Regions from separate parts of the Homo sapiens genome. Here region 2 is linked to region 1. A link means that fine-mapping ties the variant in region 1 to the expression of a gene that starts in the linked region. Tissue or cell type: monocytes. Region 1 holds a variant in brackets; the other region holds the start of a gene. All regions are shown on one strand. Distances are from middle to middle.

Region 1 (8,328 bases):
AGGTGGGAGGCAGCCTCTCCGATTCCCACCCGCTCCGTACCTAGATTGTTGTCTGTGAGGACCTCCTTCACCCTCTTGGTGATGGAGTACGTGTCCAGCTCGGGGGACATGGCCACGATCTCCTGGATGCCCCCTGGGGCCTGGCTGCCTGAGTACATCTTCCCGCTCAACGAGGAGCTGGAGCGGCCCTCTGGCTGCTGGTTCTCCTTGCTGCTCTCCAGGGACAGGCTCAACGGCTCCTGGGAGCTCTTCTCAGGCTCTGTGGGGCTGGGGGGTGGGGATGGTGAGGACCTTGGTTCTGTGGGACTGGCTGTGGGCCACAGAGAAAGAGAAGGTGGTTACTATAATCTGGCACAGACACATCCACTTTCGGGAGGCTTGCTTCTTACAGCCAAGAGTTGCCAAACACCCATTTTGCAACCACTGTAGTAATAATCGCTCAGGTAGGGACCACCCTGGATGCTAAAACTAGTGGATGAAAGTTTGATGAGGACTGGACTGGGATTTCTACAAAGTCTCCAAGTATCTCCCCACATGATGCTTAGCAATTTTTTTTTTTTTTTTAAGACGGAGTCTCGCTCTGTTGCCTAGGCTGGAGTGCAGTGGTGTGATCTCGGCTCACTGCAACCTCCGCCTCCCGGGTTCAAGCGATTCTCCTGCCTCAGCCTCCCAAGTAGCTGGGACTACAGGCATGCGCCACTACGCCCTGCTAATTTTTTGTATCTTTAGTAGAGACGGGGTTTCACCATGTTAGCCAGGATGGTCTCAATCTCCTGACCTCATGATCCACCCGCCTCAGCCTCCCAAAGTGCTGGGATTACAGACATGAGCCACCACACCTGGCCGATGCTTAGTAATTACAAAGGGAAAAGTAGCCACTTTACAGTACAGAGACCTGGTTGGACTCTCTCTGTCACCCAGGCTGGAGTGCAGTGGTGCGATCTCGGCTCACTGCAACCTCTTTCCCGGGTTCAAGCGATTCTCCTGCGTCAGCCTCCTGACTAGCTGGGATTACAGGCACTGGTGGATACCATCTTAACCAATGATCCAAGTTACTATCACCAATCACAGGGCAAGTCAGCAACATGGGCCTCCTGAGAGGATGGCCTGAGAAGGACATGGCATCACTTCTGTGATATTCCCAGCCCCAAGTACACAGCCCGAATCTGATTTCAAGGGAACATCAGGCAACCAAACTCAGACTGTCCAGGAAATAACAGCCTCTACTCTTCAGAAAGGGCAACACTGGAAAACAAAGAAAGGCAGAACTGTCGAAATCAAAACATGAAAACTAAACACAAGTGATCTTGAATCTCATCCTGCACAGGGAAAAGAAATTTACATATTTTATTTAATTAATTCATTTTGAGACAGGGTCTTGCTGTGTTGCCCAGGATGGAGTGCAGTGGCTTGGTGATAACTCACTGCAACCTCGACCTCCTGGGCTCAAGTGATCCTTCCACCTTAGCCTCCCAAGCAGCTCGGACCACAGGTGTGCATCATCATGCCTGGCTCACTTTTCTTTTTTTGAGACAAGAGTTTCACTCTGTCTCAAAAAACTTCACCCAGGCTGAAGTGCAGTGGCATGATCTTGGCTCACTGCAACCTCCACCTCACGGGTTCAAGAGATTCTTGTGCCTCAGCCTCCTAAGTCACTGGGATTATAGGTGCATGCCACCACACCCGGCTAATTTTTTGTATTCTTAGTAGAGACGGGGTTCCACCATGTTGGCCAGGCTGGTCTCAAACTCCTGACCTCAAGTGATCTACCTGCCTTAGCCTCCCAAAGTGCTGGTATTGCAGGCGTGAGCCACAGCACCTGGCCAAGATTTATATATTGTATCTAAAAATTTATATAGCTCATAAAGGATATTATTGGGACAACTGAAGAAACCTGAATATAGATGGTGGGATACATGCCAGTATTTTACCACTGTAAAATTTCTTGTTTTTGGAAAGCACTTGTTGAAGCATTTAGGGCTAAAGGGACAAGATGTCAATGAATTCCTCAAATGGCAGAGAAAGAGCACGATTATGGCAAAATTAATAACTGTTCAAACTGGGTACAGTGCAGGGAGTTTGCTGTTCTACTGTTTCAATTTTTCTGTAAATTAGAAGTTACCTCAAAACGAAAAGTTAAATAAACGGCAACAACTAAAGAAGTCAGCAATGATCCAGCAATGATCTACAAGTTCAACCACAGGAGATTGGCTGAATAAAATATGGGGGATCCCTGCAGTGGGCTCTTCCGAGGCAATGAAAGAAAATGTAATGAAAAGATGTCCATGGTGCAATGCCACATTAAAAAGCTAGATTGGGGCCGGGTGCAGTGGCTCATGCCCATAATCCCAGCAATTTGGGAGGCCAAGGTGGGAGGATCACCTAAGGTCAGGAGTTGGAGACCAGCCTGGCCAAATGGTGAAACCCCGTCTCTACTAAAAAATACAAAAATTAGCTGGGCATGGTGGCACATGCCTGTAATCCCAGCTACTCGGGAGGCTGAGGCAGCAGAATCGCTTGAACCTGGGAGGCGGAGCTCGCAGAGAGCCGAGATCACACCACTGCACTCCAGCCTGGGCAATAGAGCAAGACTCTGTTTCCAAAAAAAAAAAAAAAAAAAAAGGTAGACAGATTTTTAAACTACATTTTTCATTTTTCTTTTTTTTTGGAGATGGAGTCTCACTCACTCTGTCGCCCAGGCTGGAGTGCAGTGGCATGATCTTGGCGCACTGCAACCTAGCCTCCTGGGTTCAAGTGATTCTCCTGCCTCAGCCTCCCCCATAGCTGGGATTACAAGCGTTTGCCACCACACCCGGCTAACTTTTGTATTGTTAGTAGAGATGGGGTTTCGCCATATTGGCCAGGCTGGTCTTGAATTCCTGACCTCAAGTGATCCACCCTCCTCGGCGCCCCCAAAGTACTGGGATTACAGGCTTGAACTACCATGCCGGGCCCATTTTTCATTTTTCAAAAGACATTTTGTGTGACTATATATTGGAAAAATGATTTGAAAGATATCTGGGGCTTGTGATCTCGGGTGGATGACTTTGCCAAGCCTCCGTCCTTCCATCTGTTAAATGGGGCCATAAGACACGTAGCATTATACATACTACTTGGGGCCATCGAGAGACCTCCATGAGATAACGTGGGGCAAGGGTCCACCTCCACCTCCTCTACCACCTCCACCTCCTGGGGCATTAGAGGCACCCATGGGAGTCCCAGTGTGAGCTGAGCCTCCTGAGAAACCAGGAAAGGTGGGAGCATCCCCAGGGAGGCACCCCTAATGGGTTGGCAAGCATGGTGTGGGGTCTAGGAATCCCAGCACTGGCCACACCTAATCCCAGCACATTAGAAAAAGATGCCTCTTCCTTGAGGCATTCAACTGCCACCT[G/T]CTGGAAACTTGTTAAAATAACCATTAAAATGTATGACAGCTGGAAGAAAAGGGAGCAACGGCTTTACTTTCAGAAGAGACATCCTGAGCCCAGGATGGGTTCCTTCCTTCTCTGTCGTGGGTGAGTTGGTCACTCGGATCAGACCACTCCTATGCTCCAGAATCATCAATGGCTCCCCATTGCCCCTTGTGCAAGAAATGTCTATCACCTTGTCTTGGTGATTAAGGCTCTGAACTCCCTTGTCCCTGCCAACTGGAGCTACAGCATTTCCCTCACTCCCCTTCACAAACATCTAGGCTCCTCTCTAAGCCCCTATGTCTTTGCTCAGGCTGGTCTTGCCATCCTGAGGACTTTCCTTCTAATCTTGAACTCCTATGCATTCCTCAAGATCCAGTCCTAAATGTCCCTTCCCTGAGGTCTATTAGACTTTTGGGGTCTAATAGCACCTTGAATATATATTGTCACAGTTTGCTATAATTTCTTGCTTGGGCCAGATCTCTTCCTTACTGATGACAATGATGATGATGTTAATAAATTCCCTTTATTGAGTACTTACTACATGCCCAGTGTAGTATTATGTGCTTTATGCCTATGATCCCTCTCTCTTTATATATATATATATATATATATATATATATATATATATATATATATATATATATATATATATATGTATATGTATTTTTAAATAGAGATAGGGTTTCACTATGTGGCCCAGGCTGGTATCAAACTCCTGGGCTCAAGTCATCCTCCTGCCTCGGCCTCCCAAAGTGTTGGGATTACAGGCATGGGTCACTGTGGCTGGCCAATGCTCATGATCTCAAGTGACCCTCATGACACCTCTAAGAGGTAAGTGCTATGTCATCCCATTTTATGGGTGAGGAAACCGAGGTTCAGAGAGGTTAGACAACGTGTCCAAGATCACACAGCAATAAATGGCAAAGTCAGGACTTGAGCTGGGGTTGGGTTATGCCCAACACTGTCCTCTCATCTACCAACTGTGAGCCCCTTGAAGGCAAGGACTACAAGTTAGTCACAGGTGAGTCCCCAGAGCCTGGGGGTGGGGCAGGGGCTCTGGGCAGATGCCTATGGAGTAATTTCAGCCAGGATCCCTGAGTACTCCTGAAGAGGGCAAGGTGAAGCCCCCGAGTTCGAAGTAGCAGCATCATGGCCCTTTGTGACCGTGAGGTCTCAAGAAGTCTACTGTGCCCCCAGCCCCAAGTGAGCTGATCCTGGCCATTCAGGTAGCATCCATGTGATGCCAAGGCTGACGTGGGCATGTTCCAGGCTCACTGTTACCAACACTGATGCCATGTTGGTGTGGGAGGGCCAGTCTGGGAAAGTGAGAGTCTGTCCTAGGTGTCTGCCCACTGTCGGCAGCAGGAGAGGGGCTGGGGCCAGCTGGAAAACTGACGGTCTTTGGGCCGGGCATGGTGGCTCACGCCTGTAATCCCTGCACTTTGGAAGGCCAACGCGGGTGGATCACCTGAGGTCAGGGGTTCGAGACCAGCCTGGCCAACATGGTGAAACCCCATCTCTACTAAAAATACAAAAAATTAGCCAGGTGTGTTTGCACACACCTGTAGCCCCAGCTACTCTGGAGGCTGAGGCAGGAGAATTGGTTGAACCTGGGAGGCAGAGGTCGCAGTGAGCCGGGATTGCGCCACTGCACTCCAGCCTAGGTGAAAGAACAAGACTCCACCTCGAAAACAAACAAACAAACAAAAAACACAAAAAACTGAGGGTCTTTGAAGGCATCTCCCTCTTGGAAAACTATCTGCACCCATGTCCCAACCTAGAGGGCCAAGAAGCGAAGCGAACAGGATGACATGGAGATGATTGGCAGGAAAGAACACAGCCACCCCCCAATCCCACTCCCCCAGGGAGAACCCCGCCTTTCTGACTCCTCTGACTGAGAATCGCTTCTGACGAAGTGATGGAAAGATTCAGAAATTATCTCTATCAGGAAGACTGTGCTAATTACAGGGCTGGGGGAGTCACATGTGAACAACTGGGTTATTTGGAGAGGGAGGCGACGACAGGGAGAGGCAGGGTCTTCTTGCCTTGCTGGGCTTGTGGGTGGGGTGCCAGACAGGGCTGTGGGCAGCTGGGGACAGGAGAGAGAGCAGAGTGACCAACCCATCCCAGTCTGCCCGCGACTTTCCTTATTTTACTACAGAAAGTTCCAGATCCTGGGAAATCTCTCTCTCCTGGAGAGATAAGGATGGTGCAAGAGAGATGAAAAGAGAGCACTGGAGGGACAGGGAGGGTCAGGGAGGAAGAGACAGAGCAAACAGAGGGGGAGAGAGATGGTGAGAGAGGCAGGGGGAGAGAGAGAGTGGGGTGGGGGGAGGAGAGGGAGAGGGAGAGAGGGAGAGAGGGGGAGAGAGAGAGAGAGAGAGAGAGAGAGAGAGAGATAGGTGAATCAAAAAAATGCAGAGTGAGAAAAACAGAAAGAAGACAATGGAGGTGACTGGGTGCAGTAGCTCATGCCTGTAATCCCAGCACTTTGGGAGGCCAAGGTGGGTGGATCACCTGAGGTCAGGAGTTCAAGACCAGCCTGGCCAACATGGCAAAACCTGTCTCTTCTAAAAATACAAAAAATTAGTTGGGTGCCTGTAATCCCAGCTACTTCGGAGACTGAGGCAGGAGAATTGCTTGAACCCAGGAGCCGGAGGTTACAGTGAGCCGAGATCACACCATTGCACTCCAGCCTGGGCGACAGAGTGAGACTCTGTCACACACACACACACACACACACACACACACACACACACAAAAGAAATTGGAGGAGAGAGACAGAGATCAGGAGAGAGACAGAGGGAAGACAGGGACTGTGTATGGGGACAGGACAGGGCTTCCTTGACTGCTTGAGAATTCTGAGAAACCTCGGATGGAAGGGTCTGGAATACTGATGCTGCCACGGTAGGTAGCGCCGATTATACCCGGGGCTGCGCCTGGCAGTGGACGTGGGGATAAGGGCGTGCTTTATAACCCTCCCGTGGCATCTGGCTCAACTTCAGTAACAGGTATGGTCAGGGTTCCAGTGCCGGTCCCTGCCCGCCCCAGTGGCCAGGGCATACACAAGCGGGGCTTGGACAGGTCCTGACACCCAGCCCCACAGCCAGACTCTGTGGGACTTTGTGGGCAATGGATACACCCTTTTGCTTCCAGGCCCAGTGGGTTATGAACAAGCAGAGGCTGTGAGGGTGGCTCTGCCATCACCACTCTCTCCCTAGGGCCAGCAGCTACAGTAGCCACCTCCAGGCCTGATTCCCTCATCATTATTATTATTGTTTTTGAGACAGGGTCTCGCTCTATTGTCCAGACTGGAAGGCACTCACTCCAGTTCACTGCAGCCTTGACCTCCTAGGCTCAAGCATCCTCATACCTCAGCCTCCTGAGTAGCTGGGACTACAGGCACCTGCCACCATGCCCAGCTGATTTTTGTATTTTTGTAATTTTGTACAGAAGGGGTTTTGCCATGTTGGTCAGGCTGGTCTCAAACTCCTGACCTCAAGTGATCCGCCTGCTTTAGCCTCCCAAAGTCCTGGGACTACAGGTGTGACGCACTGTGCCTAGCCTTGGCTTCCTATTCTGGGAGAGCAGGGGACCCCGCCACCTCTACTCACATCCCTTCCCAGGCCGTGCATGGTCCCACCTCCTAGCCGCTGCCTGTGCCATTCCTTCCACAAGGAGCACCATTCTCCATCTTCTCTGCTTACCTCTATCCTACCTGTGGTCAAATCCTTCCATGACAATAAAATCTACAACCAAAACAATCAGACATTGGGGAAATGCAAATAAAAACTACAGTGAAATACCACTTACACACCCACCAGGATGGCTAGCGTCAACAAATGGGAGATAACCCATGTTGGTAAGGACCTGGAGAAACAGAAACCCTTTGAACTTCCTCAGTAAGTTAAACACAAGAGTTACCATATGATCTAGCCAACTGTACTCCTAGATATATGTTCGAAGAACTGAAAATGGGGGTTCAAACACAAATATGTACACAAATTTTCATAGGCGCATTATTCAAAATAGTCAAAATGGGGTCTATCCATACAATGGAATATCATTTAGCCATAAAAAAGGAAGGAAATTCTGATGCATACTACAGCCTGTATGAGCCTTGAAAACACGTTAACTGAAAGAAGCCAGCCACAGAAGGCCAAGTAGTACAGGATTCCATCTATATGAAACATTCAGAAGAGGCAAATCCAGACAGAAAGAAAGCGGAATTCCAGGAGCTGGGGGGAAGGAGGATGGGCAATGACTGCTGGATGGGTATGGGGTTCCTTTTTGGGGCGGTGGGAATATTCTGGAATTAGACAGAGGTGATGGTCACACGCATTGTGCATGTATTAGATCCACTGAATTGTATACTTCAAAAATGGTTTAAAAGGTACATTTTACGTTATGTGATTTTTGTTTGTTTGTTTCTTTGTTTGAGACAGAGTCTCACTCTGTCACCCAGGCTGCAGTGCAGTGGTGCCATCCGGCTCACTGCAACCTCTGCTTCCTGGGTTCAAGCGATCCTCTCGCCTTAGCCTCCCGAGTAGCTGGGATTACAGATGCGTGCTACCACACCCGGCTAATTTTTGTACTTTTAGGAGAGACGGGATTTCTCCATGTTGGCCAGGCTGGTCTCAAATTCCTGGGCTCAAGTGATCGGCCCGCCTCGGCCTCCCAAAGTGCTGGGATTACAGGTGTGAGCCACGGTGCCCAGCTGTTATGTGAATTTTACTACAGTAAAAAAGTTAGTTAAAACCTAACACCACAGACCAGGCGCAGTGGCTCACCACTCCAGCCTGGGTGACAGAGTGAGACTATGTCTCAAAAAACCAAAAACCAACCCCCTCCATCACCACAACACTATAAAACAAAACCAACCCCTACCCCACCACAAGACTATAAACAAAACCCACCC
Region 2 (8,328 bases), 38 kb before region 1:
ACTGGAGCAGAGGTGACTCTTGTTATGTTTTAGCAAAGAGACTGGCGGCATTTTGCCCCTGCCCTAGAGATCTGTGGAACTTTGAACTTGAGAGAGATGATTTAGGGTATCTGGTAGAAGAAATTTCTAAGCAGCAAAGCATTCAAGAGGTAACTTGCAGGCTGGGAGCGGTGGCTCAAGCCTGTAATCTCAGCACTTTGGGAAGCCAAGGTGGGCAGATTACCTGAGGTCAGGAGTTCAAGACCAGCCTGACCAACATGGTGAAACCCTATCTCTACCAAAAATACAAAAAATTAGCCATGTGCAATGGCGTGCACCTGGTGCCAGCTACTCAGGAGGCTGAGACAGAAGAACCGCTTGAACCCAGGAGGCGGAGGTTGCAGTGAGCTGAGATCACACCACTGCACTCCAGCCTGGGCAACAGAGCAAGACTCTGTCTCAAAAAAAAAAAAAAAAAAAAAAAAAGAAAAGAAAAGAAAAAAATAAGAAGTAAATTGTAATAGAAAGAAAAGCCCATTTTCTGGGGAGAAATTCAAGCCGGCTGCAGAAATTTGCATTACGTAGCAAGGAGCCTAATGTTAATCCCCAAGACCATGGAGGAAATGTCTCCAGGCCATGTCAGAGAACTTCCTGGCAGCCCCTTCCATCACAGGTCCAGAGGTCCAGGAGGAAAAAGTGGTTTTGTGGGCCAGGCCCTGGGTTCCTGTGCTGTGTGCATCCTAGGGAGTTGGTGTTCTGTGTCCCAGCTGCTCCAGCCATGGCTGAAAGGCACCAACACAGAGCTCAGGCTGTGGTTTCAGAGGGTGGAAGCCCCAAGCCTTGGCAGCTTCCATGTGGTGTTGAGCCTGTGGGTGCACAGAAGTCAAGAATTCAGGTTTGGGAACCTCTGCCTAGATTTCAGAAGATGTTTGGAAATGCCTGGATGCCCAGGCAAAAGTTTGCTGCAGGGGCAGGGCCCTCATGGAGAACCTCTGCTAGGGTGGTGCAGAAGGGAAATGTGGGGTTCAGAGCCCCCACACAGAGTCCCTACTGGGGTACTGCCTAGTGGAGCTGTGAGAAGAGGGCCACCATCCTCCAGACTCTGAAATGGTAGATCCACTGACAGCTTGCACTGTGTGCCTGGAAAAGCCACAGATACTCACCACCAGCCCGTGAAAGCAGCCAGGAGGAAGCCTGTACCCTGCAAAGCCACAGGAGTGGAGCTGCCCAAGATCATGGGAACCCATCTCTTGCATCAGCGTGACCTGGATGTGAGACCCGGAGTCAAAGGAGATCATTTTGGAGCTTTAAAATTTGACTGCCCCACTGGATTTCAGACTTGCATGGGCCCTGTAACCCCTTTGTTTTGGCCAATTTCCCCCATTTGGAACGGCTGTATTTACCCAATACCTGCATCCCCACTGTATCTAGGAAGTAACTAGCTTGCTTTTGATTTTACAGGCTCATAGGCAGAAGGGACTTGCCTTGTCTCAGACAAGACTTTGGACTGTGGAATTTTGGGTTAATTCTGAAATTAGCTAAGACTTTGGGGGACTGTTGGGAAGGCATGATTGGTTTTGAAATGTGAGGACGTGAGATTTGGAGGGGCCGGGGCAAAATGATATGGTTTGGCTGTGTCCCCACCAAAATCTGAACTTGATTTGTATCTCCCAGAATTCCCACGTGTTGTGAGTGGGACCCAAGAGGAGGTCATTGAGTCATGGGGGCCAGTCTTTCCTACGCTATTCTTATAATAGTGAATAAGTCTCACGAGATCTGAAGGGTTTATCAGGGGTTTCCGCTTTTGTTTCTTCCTCACTTTCTCTTGCCACTGCCATGTAAGAAGTGTCTTTCACCTCCCGCCATGATTCCAAGGCCTCCTCAGCCATGTGGAACTGTAAGTCCAATTAAACCTCTTTTTGTTCTCAGTTTCGGGTATGTCTTTATCAGCAGTGTGAAAACGGACTAATACATATATCCATTAAATATATATCTATACTTAACCACTTCTCTCCACCTCCACTGCTCCACTCTAAGCCACCACCATCACTTGCTTGGACTACTGCAGTAGTGTTCTCCCTGATCGCCTGGCTTCTACTATCATTCCCTGCCCATAGCAGTCAGGGACCATGTTAAATCTAACACAGACCATGTCCCTCCTCTGCTCAAAACCCTCCCATGGCTCCTCATTCTTCTTAGAGTAAAAGCAAAATCTTTCCTCTGGTCCTTAAGCCCCTAGGTCACCTGGCTTTCTGGCTTTGCCAATAATCTCTGATCTATTGTGTTTTTTTTTTTGTTTTTGTTTTTTTTTTGTTTGACAGAGTCTTGCTCTGTCACCCAGGCTGGAGTGCAGTGGTGCAATCTCAGCTCATTGCAACCTCTGCCTCCTGGGTTCAAGTGATTCTCCTGTCTCAGCCTCCCAAGTAACTGGGATTACAGGTGTACACCACCATGCCTGGCTAATTTTTTTTTTTTTTTTTTTTTGTATTTTTAGTAGAGACCGGGTTTCACCATGTTGGCTAGGCTGGTCTCGAACTCCTGACCTCAAGTGATCTACCTGCCTCGGCCTCCCAAAGTGCTGGGATTATAGGCGTGAGCCACTGCGCCCAGCCAGCTGACCTATTTTCCTACTATTCTTCCCATTGCTCACTTGGCTCCACTGGTCTCCTCGTTGTTCTTCAAACATGCCCAGGATGGCCCCATTTCAGGGCTTTTGCACTTGCTGTTCCCTCTGCCTGGGACCTCCTTCTCCCAGATAACCACATGGCTCCCTCCCTCATTCCTCCAGGTCTGTCCTCAGAGAGGCCTTCCCTGACCACCTTGTCTAAAAGCTGCACTTCCAGCTTGGGCAAGATAGCAAGACCCCCCCGATCTCTACAAAAAATTAAAAAAAATTAGCCGGGTGTGGTGGTACACACCTGTAGTCCCAACTACTTGGGAGGCTGAGGTGGGAGGCTCGGTTGAACCCAGGAGTTCAGGTTACAATGAGCTGTGATTGTGCCACTGCACCCCAACCTGGGTGACAAAAAAACACAAAAAACAAAAAACAAAAACAAAAAAACTGCACTCCCAGGCTTTCTGCCCCATTGCCTTAGCGTACAGTCCTAGCATGAATCACTTCCAGAACTCATTTGTGTTGTCTTGATTCCTGGCTGCACCTGCTTACCTGGTTCAGGTACAGTGCCTGGCACACAGTAGGCGCTTAGTGAGAGGCTGTACAATGGAGAGCTGACCCTGGTCTGTCCTGTTCTTCCTGCTTTCAGGCCAGGACTTAATAGTGATTGGGAGGTGGCGGGTGGTGGAGAAGAGGCGGCAGGAACAGGAAGGAAGGGTTCAAGGAGGTGGGCAGGGCAAAAACAACAGCAATTCCTATTTCTTGAGAGCTTTCTGTTGTGCCGTGCACTTTACATATCATGATGGTCTTTATTTTCCGGATGAGGAAACGGAGGCTTAGAGAAGTGAAATGATTTCTCTAAGCTCACACAGTGTTCAGTGGCCTAGTGCGACTCGAACTCAAGTCTGCCTAATTCCAGAACTTCCTCTCTTCACCTGGAGCCAGGGGAAGCTTGCGAGGCGCCCTGTCCGTATGGAACAGTGCTGTACGCAAATGTCCTGGATTCAGCTGTTTTTTCTGCCACTCACACATTTTTCAGGAATTAGAGCTATTTTTCTAATTTAACTGGGCATTAAATTTGCTAAACCTGGCAACCCAGGTTTAGCAAATATTTTTATTATTTGTAGAGATGGTGGTCTCCCTCTGCTGCCCAGGCTGGTCTTGAACTACTAGGCTCAGGCAATCCTCCTGCCTCGTCCTGGGGGGAGTTCGGACTTAAGCCTAGGACTTCAGCGAATGGCCCGCCCAGGACCCCCAAATGCTTTTGCAGGCTAATCCACGACCTGGGCCAGTCCTTACCTTTGGAATCGCAATGAGCTTCCCGGGCTCCAATCCGCTTTTCTGGGCTAGGGAACTGGGGAGTCGCGAGCCAGGAGCGGACCCTTTAAGAGTGATTTCGAGGGCGGGCTCACGGGGGCGTGCCGGTTCGGGGCCTGCCAATCGGGAGGTGGGAAGAACGCGGGGGCGGGCCCGGCGCGAGCAGGCTGGGAAGGGTTAAAGGGGCGCGCCCGTGGGTCGCGGACTGTCCGGTTGCTCCCGCCTCCTTCCGTCGGATCCGCGCTCTCCCGCGGCTGCGCCGGCCCGGCCGCCCAGGAGACAAAGCGCTGCCGCCGCCGTCGCCGCCACCGGGCCAGTCCCGAACCATGGCCGGGCCACCCCGCAACCTCGCGCCTCCCGTCCCGTCGCCGCCCTAGGCCTGCGCTGCGAGGTAAGGCGGGCCTGGCGGGGGGACATGCACGAGGACATGGGACCCGGGTCGGGCCGCCCTGGGCCTCGGGGTCCCCCGGCCACCTGGAGAGCGCGTTGCGGGGATCTTCCCCGCTGGGACTCCGCACCAGTGGTGACTTCTCCAGCTGCCGAGGCGAACTTGGCCAATGACCACCCTCCCCTCTCTCAGCCCATAGGGACGTCTGCCGCTGGTGGGGACTGCGGATAAGCCCCCCATTCTGCCGCTGATCACCCATCTGGGGCTCTGGCTGTCCTTTAAGGAACTTAAGAGAGCTCCCACGCACAACACACAAAGGGACAGAGAGCAGCCGGGAGCAGGGCCACACCTGGAGCAGCAGCCCCTGCCGTGGACAAGGGGGCTGCCTGTGTCTGGACGGCGGTGCTGGCGTGTCTCTGGGGTCCCTGCTGGGGCGGTGACGGCCAGGCTGCTCTTTAGTGTTCTTGGCACACATGTTTTTCAGCCTGTGCCTGCCACACCCTCTTCCCCACGCCCGCTGCTGGGGGACACTGAGGGCAGCTGGATTCAACCCCAGGACCTGCGGTACTGGCTTCTTTTCGTTGATGTGAGTGCCAAAATGCCATGCTTCAGTCTCCCAGGAGACCTGGGTTCCGGGGCCAGCTGTGCCCCTGGAGATCTTGGATGAATTATTTGCCTTTTTGACAGCTCTTTCCCTGAAAGCTCACTACCCACCAAGTATTTTGCAAAATGACTCTTCAGGAGTCAATTCACTCAGCCCTTAGAGGGATGGAAGTTAACGTCACCATTTTGCAGATGAGGCTGAGAAAAAACTCCGACTCACAGCAGCTAATATTTGCAATCCATTTCCCATAGTTTGCCAGTGGGTTTTCCTTCTTTTAGCTCATGAACCCTCGCCACACAGCCCAATTTAACAGATGAGGACACTGAGACTTGGAAAGGTGAAACGACTTGTCCAAGGTCCTCCAGCCTGGACCTGCGGAGGCAGGAACTTTGCCTTGGGAGCAGAGCTGGGCCAGGCTCCCTCCAGCTTCCTGTCTGGCCATGGGCTGTTGAATCAGCAGCAGTGCCCACAGTGGACTCTGAACTTCTTGGAAAACAGTGTGGGGAGATAAGGCAGGGGCCAGGCCTTCGCTCCAGGCAAGGCTGGCGCCTGTGCCCCTGCAGCTTCCTGTCTTCCCAGTTCTGGTGGAGGCAGGGGTCATGGGCAGAGCTGGGTCCTGTGCCTGCTGGTGACCTTGAACCAGTTTGGCCTCTATCTAGGCAGTCGGGGGAGGAGGGTTGCTGAGCAGGAGGGAAGTTGCTATTCCTTTGGCCTTGATGGGGTGGAGAGACCCCAAGATCAGCCCCTTTATTTGGGTGGCTTGCCTGGAGCATGTGATTCTGGGCACAGTTGTATGCCTCTAGCCAACTTATTGAATCTCCCTGTGTCCATTTCCACATCTGTGAATGTGGGGTGAGATCCCTTGTCTTGGGGCTGTTGAAAGGTTTCAGAAGATACTGCAGAATGAATCAAACAGCTGTGTGAGTACCTACTGCATGCCAGGCACTAGAATTCAGACCACAAACGCCCCTGCAGGCAGAAATGACCCAGGTATTAATTTCAGGTGGAGGCACAGGAGAGGGACTGGGGGGCCTCTTGTGCATAGGGTGGCCAGGGACCACCTCTCTGAGGAGGTGACAGCTAGGCTGAGACCAAAGGATGGGGAGCTGGCCTTGTGAAGACCTGCAGGCAGACAGCCGGGACCAAGTCTTGGAGGTGGGGATGTGTCTGGTGTATTTGAGGAACAGAAAGGAGGCCAGGATGGCTGGAGCTGAGTGAACAAGGGGGAAAGAGGTAGGGAAAGGGAACTTGGAAGCCAAGGGAGGCTTGGATTTTTTTTTTTTTTTTTTTGAGACAGAATCTCACTATGTCACCCCCCAAGTTCAAGGGGTCCTTCCATGTTAGCCTCCCAGATAGCTAGGACTAGAGGCTTGTATCACCATGCCCAGCTATTTTTTTTTCTATTTTTTATAGAGATAGGGTCTTGCTATGTTGTCCAGGCTGGTCTCTAACTCAAGCAATCCTACCCCCTCAGCCTCCCAAAGTGCCAGCATTACAGGTGTGAGCCACCGCACCCTGCCTAAGGATTTAATTTTATGCTGAGAGAAGTAGGGAGCCATGGGAGGGTTTAGAGCAGAGGAGGAGTGTGATTGGACTTAATTTTCACAGGATCCATCTGTGGGAAGTGGATTTCAGTGTGGCTCGGAGAAGAGCTTAGGAAGGAGGCTTGGATCTTACCTTGAGGAACATGGACAGGGAGGGGCAAGGAGACTTATGAGGAGGCTACAGCAGCCATCCCAGTGAATGGTGATGGGGCCTAGAATGGGGAGGTGGAGTGGACAGATTAGGCAACTGATTTGGAAGACGCTGGAGAGGGGGATCAACTGGACTTGATGTGCGATCAGATGCGGGGGTGAGAGGGAAACCAAGGGCCATTTGCTGAGATCGGAAGCACAACACAGGGATGTTTGGGGAAAAGCCAAGAAAAATGTGAACTGCAACCGCGCTCAGCAGGCACTGTGTGCCTGGCCCCATGCTCCGCAAAGTCCATATAGTCACTGTATCATTGTCACAACAGCCCTGACTTAGGCACTGTTACGATCCCATTTTACAGATGCAGAAACAGAGGCCCAGAGAGATGAATAGCCTGCCTGGGGTCCCCCAGCCCAGATGCTGCAGAGCTGACATTTGAATCCAGAGAAGAGCGAGCTGAGGCTGGAGCTGAGCAGAGGGCAGGGAGGCAAGTGGTGGCCTGAGAGGTAGGAGCGGAACTGGGCAAGCAGGGCGGGAGGGTCCTGTGAGAACCGGGGCCAGCATCCACATGGGAGTTGATGGGTGGTGGTGTGGGGAATGCGTGAATCCCTGCGGCTTAGAGAGGGACAGCTGTAGCTGAGAGGCAGGGTGGGGATTCAACACCTGGAGACTTTGGGGGCTCTGGCCTTGGCCTCCCACTAGGTCAGGACAAACTGACCTCAGTTTCTTTTTTTATTTTAAGTTCCATGATACATGTGCAGAACATGCAGGCTTGTCACATAGGTATACGTGTGCCATGGTGGCTTGCTGCACCATTGACCCGTTCTCTAAGTTCCCTCCCCTCACCCCCGATCCCCCAACAGGCCCCGATATGTGTTCTGCCCCTCCCTGTGTCCATGTGTCTCATTGTTCAACTCCCACTTATGAGTAAGAACATGCGGTATTTGGTTTTCTGTTCCTGTGTTAGTTTGCTGAGGATGATGGCTTCCAGCTCCATCTATTTCCCCGCAAAGGACATGATCTCATTCCTTTTTATGGCTGGATAGTTTTCCATGGTGTGTATGTACCACATTTCCTTTATTCAGTCTATCATTGATGGGCATTTGGGTTGGTTGATCTCAGTTTCTAAGTCACAACTCATGTTCCGTCTTCTAGGAAGCCTTCCCTGACTGCCTATGTGGCTGACAGGAGGTGGCAAGGACAACCCCCTCCACCCTAGGACAGGTAGTCTGGCAGGGCCTCACTGCGGTCACCTGCTCCCAGGAGAGCCACCACCCTGACCTCATTCCACCAGGCTCTGAGAAAGACACCACCCAGGCAGGGGAATGAACACTGAGTGCCTACTGCGTACCAGGACTTTATATCCTTTGCTTCTTGAAAAATGTAGCTACCATCCTATGCAGGCTGAGGCTCTGCAGTGGGAGATAAGGCAGGCTCTCAAAATGGCCATGGAAAACCCCAAGGGAAGGTGGCCAGGCCAGGGACGCAGATGCCACCTCCCGACAAGTCCTTCCTGGCCAGCGTTGCCCCATCATATACTCCTTGGGGGAAGGTGGATGGGGTCACTGTGGCCGATGGCATGGAGTTAGAGTCCTCTATGCTAAATGGCACGGGTCGACCCCCTGCCCCTCCTTCCTGTAAGTCAGCCTAGCCCTGGGCCTGCATCTTTCCCCAAATTCTTTCTTTTTTTTTGAGACGGAGTCTGGCTCTGTCCCCAGGCTGGAGTGTAGTAGT

Alleles and levels. Alleles are on the strand shown, and positions count from the first base shown. SD is a standard deviation of normalised expression in the study named.
In carriers of allele T in region 1, the expression in monocytes of the gene that starts at base 4,118 in region 2 tends to be higher than with G alone (large effect, 0.84 SD a copy in Quach 2016).

What was found. PIP is the estimated chance that this variant, and not a neighbour inherited with it, causes the effect.
Region 2: PHETA1 starts here. The variant in region 1 is fine-mapped to the expression of PHETA1 in monocytes (Quach 2016, PIP 0.95).

What each region holds. Positions count from the first base shown.
Region 1 is chr12:111,326,423-111,334,750 of GRCh38, reverse strand. It overlaps CUX2 (cut like homeobox 2), which reads right to left. Exons shown (of 22, transcript NM_015267.4): 19 at 41-310. Among named protein-coding and RNA genes, the nearest start is that of MIR6760, 26 kb to the right of the region's middle. The variant G/T (reference allele first, on the strand shown) is at 3,392.
Region 2 is chr12:111,364,885-111,373,212 of GRCh38, reverse strand. It overlaps PHETA1 (PH domain containing endocytic trafficking adaptor 1), which reads left to right and starts at 4,118. Exons shown (of 3, transcript NM_144671.6): 1 at 4,118-4,301; 2 at 6,956-7,100. It overlaps LINC02356 (long intergenic non-protein coding RNA 2356), which reads right to left and starts at 3,952. Exons shown (of 4, transcript NR_187522.1): 1 at 3,893-3,952; 2 at 1,143-1,244. RefSeq lists a silencer at 3,948-4,527.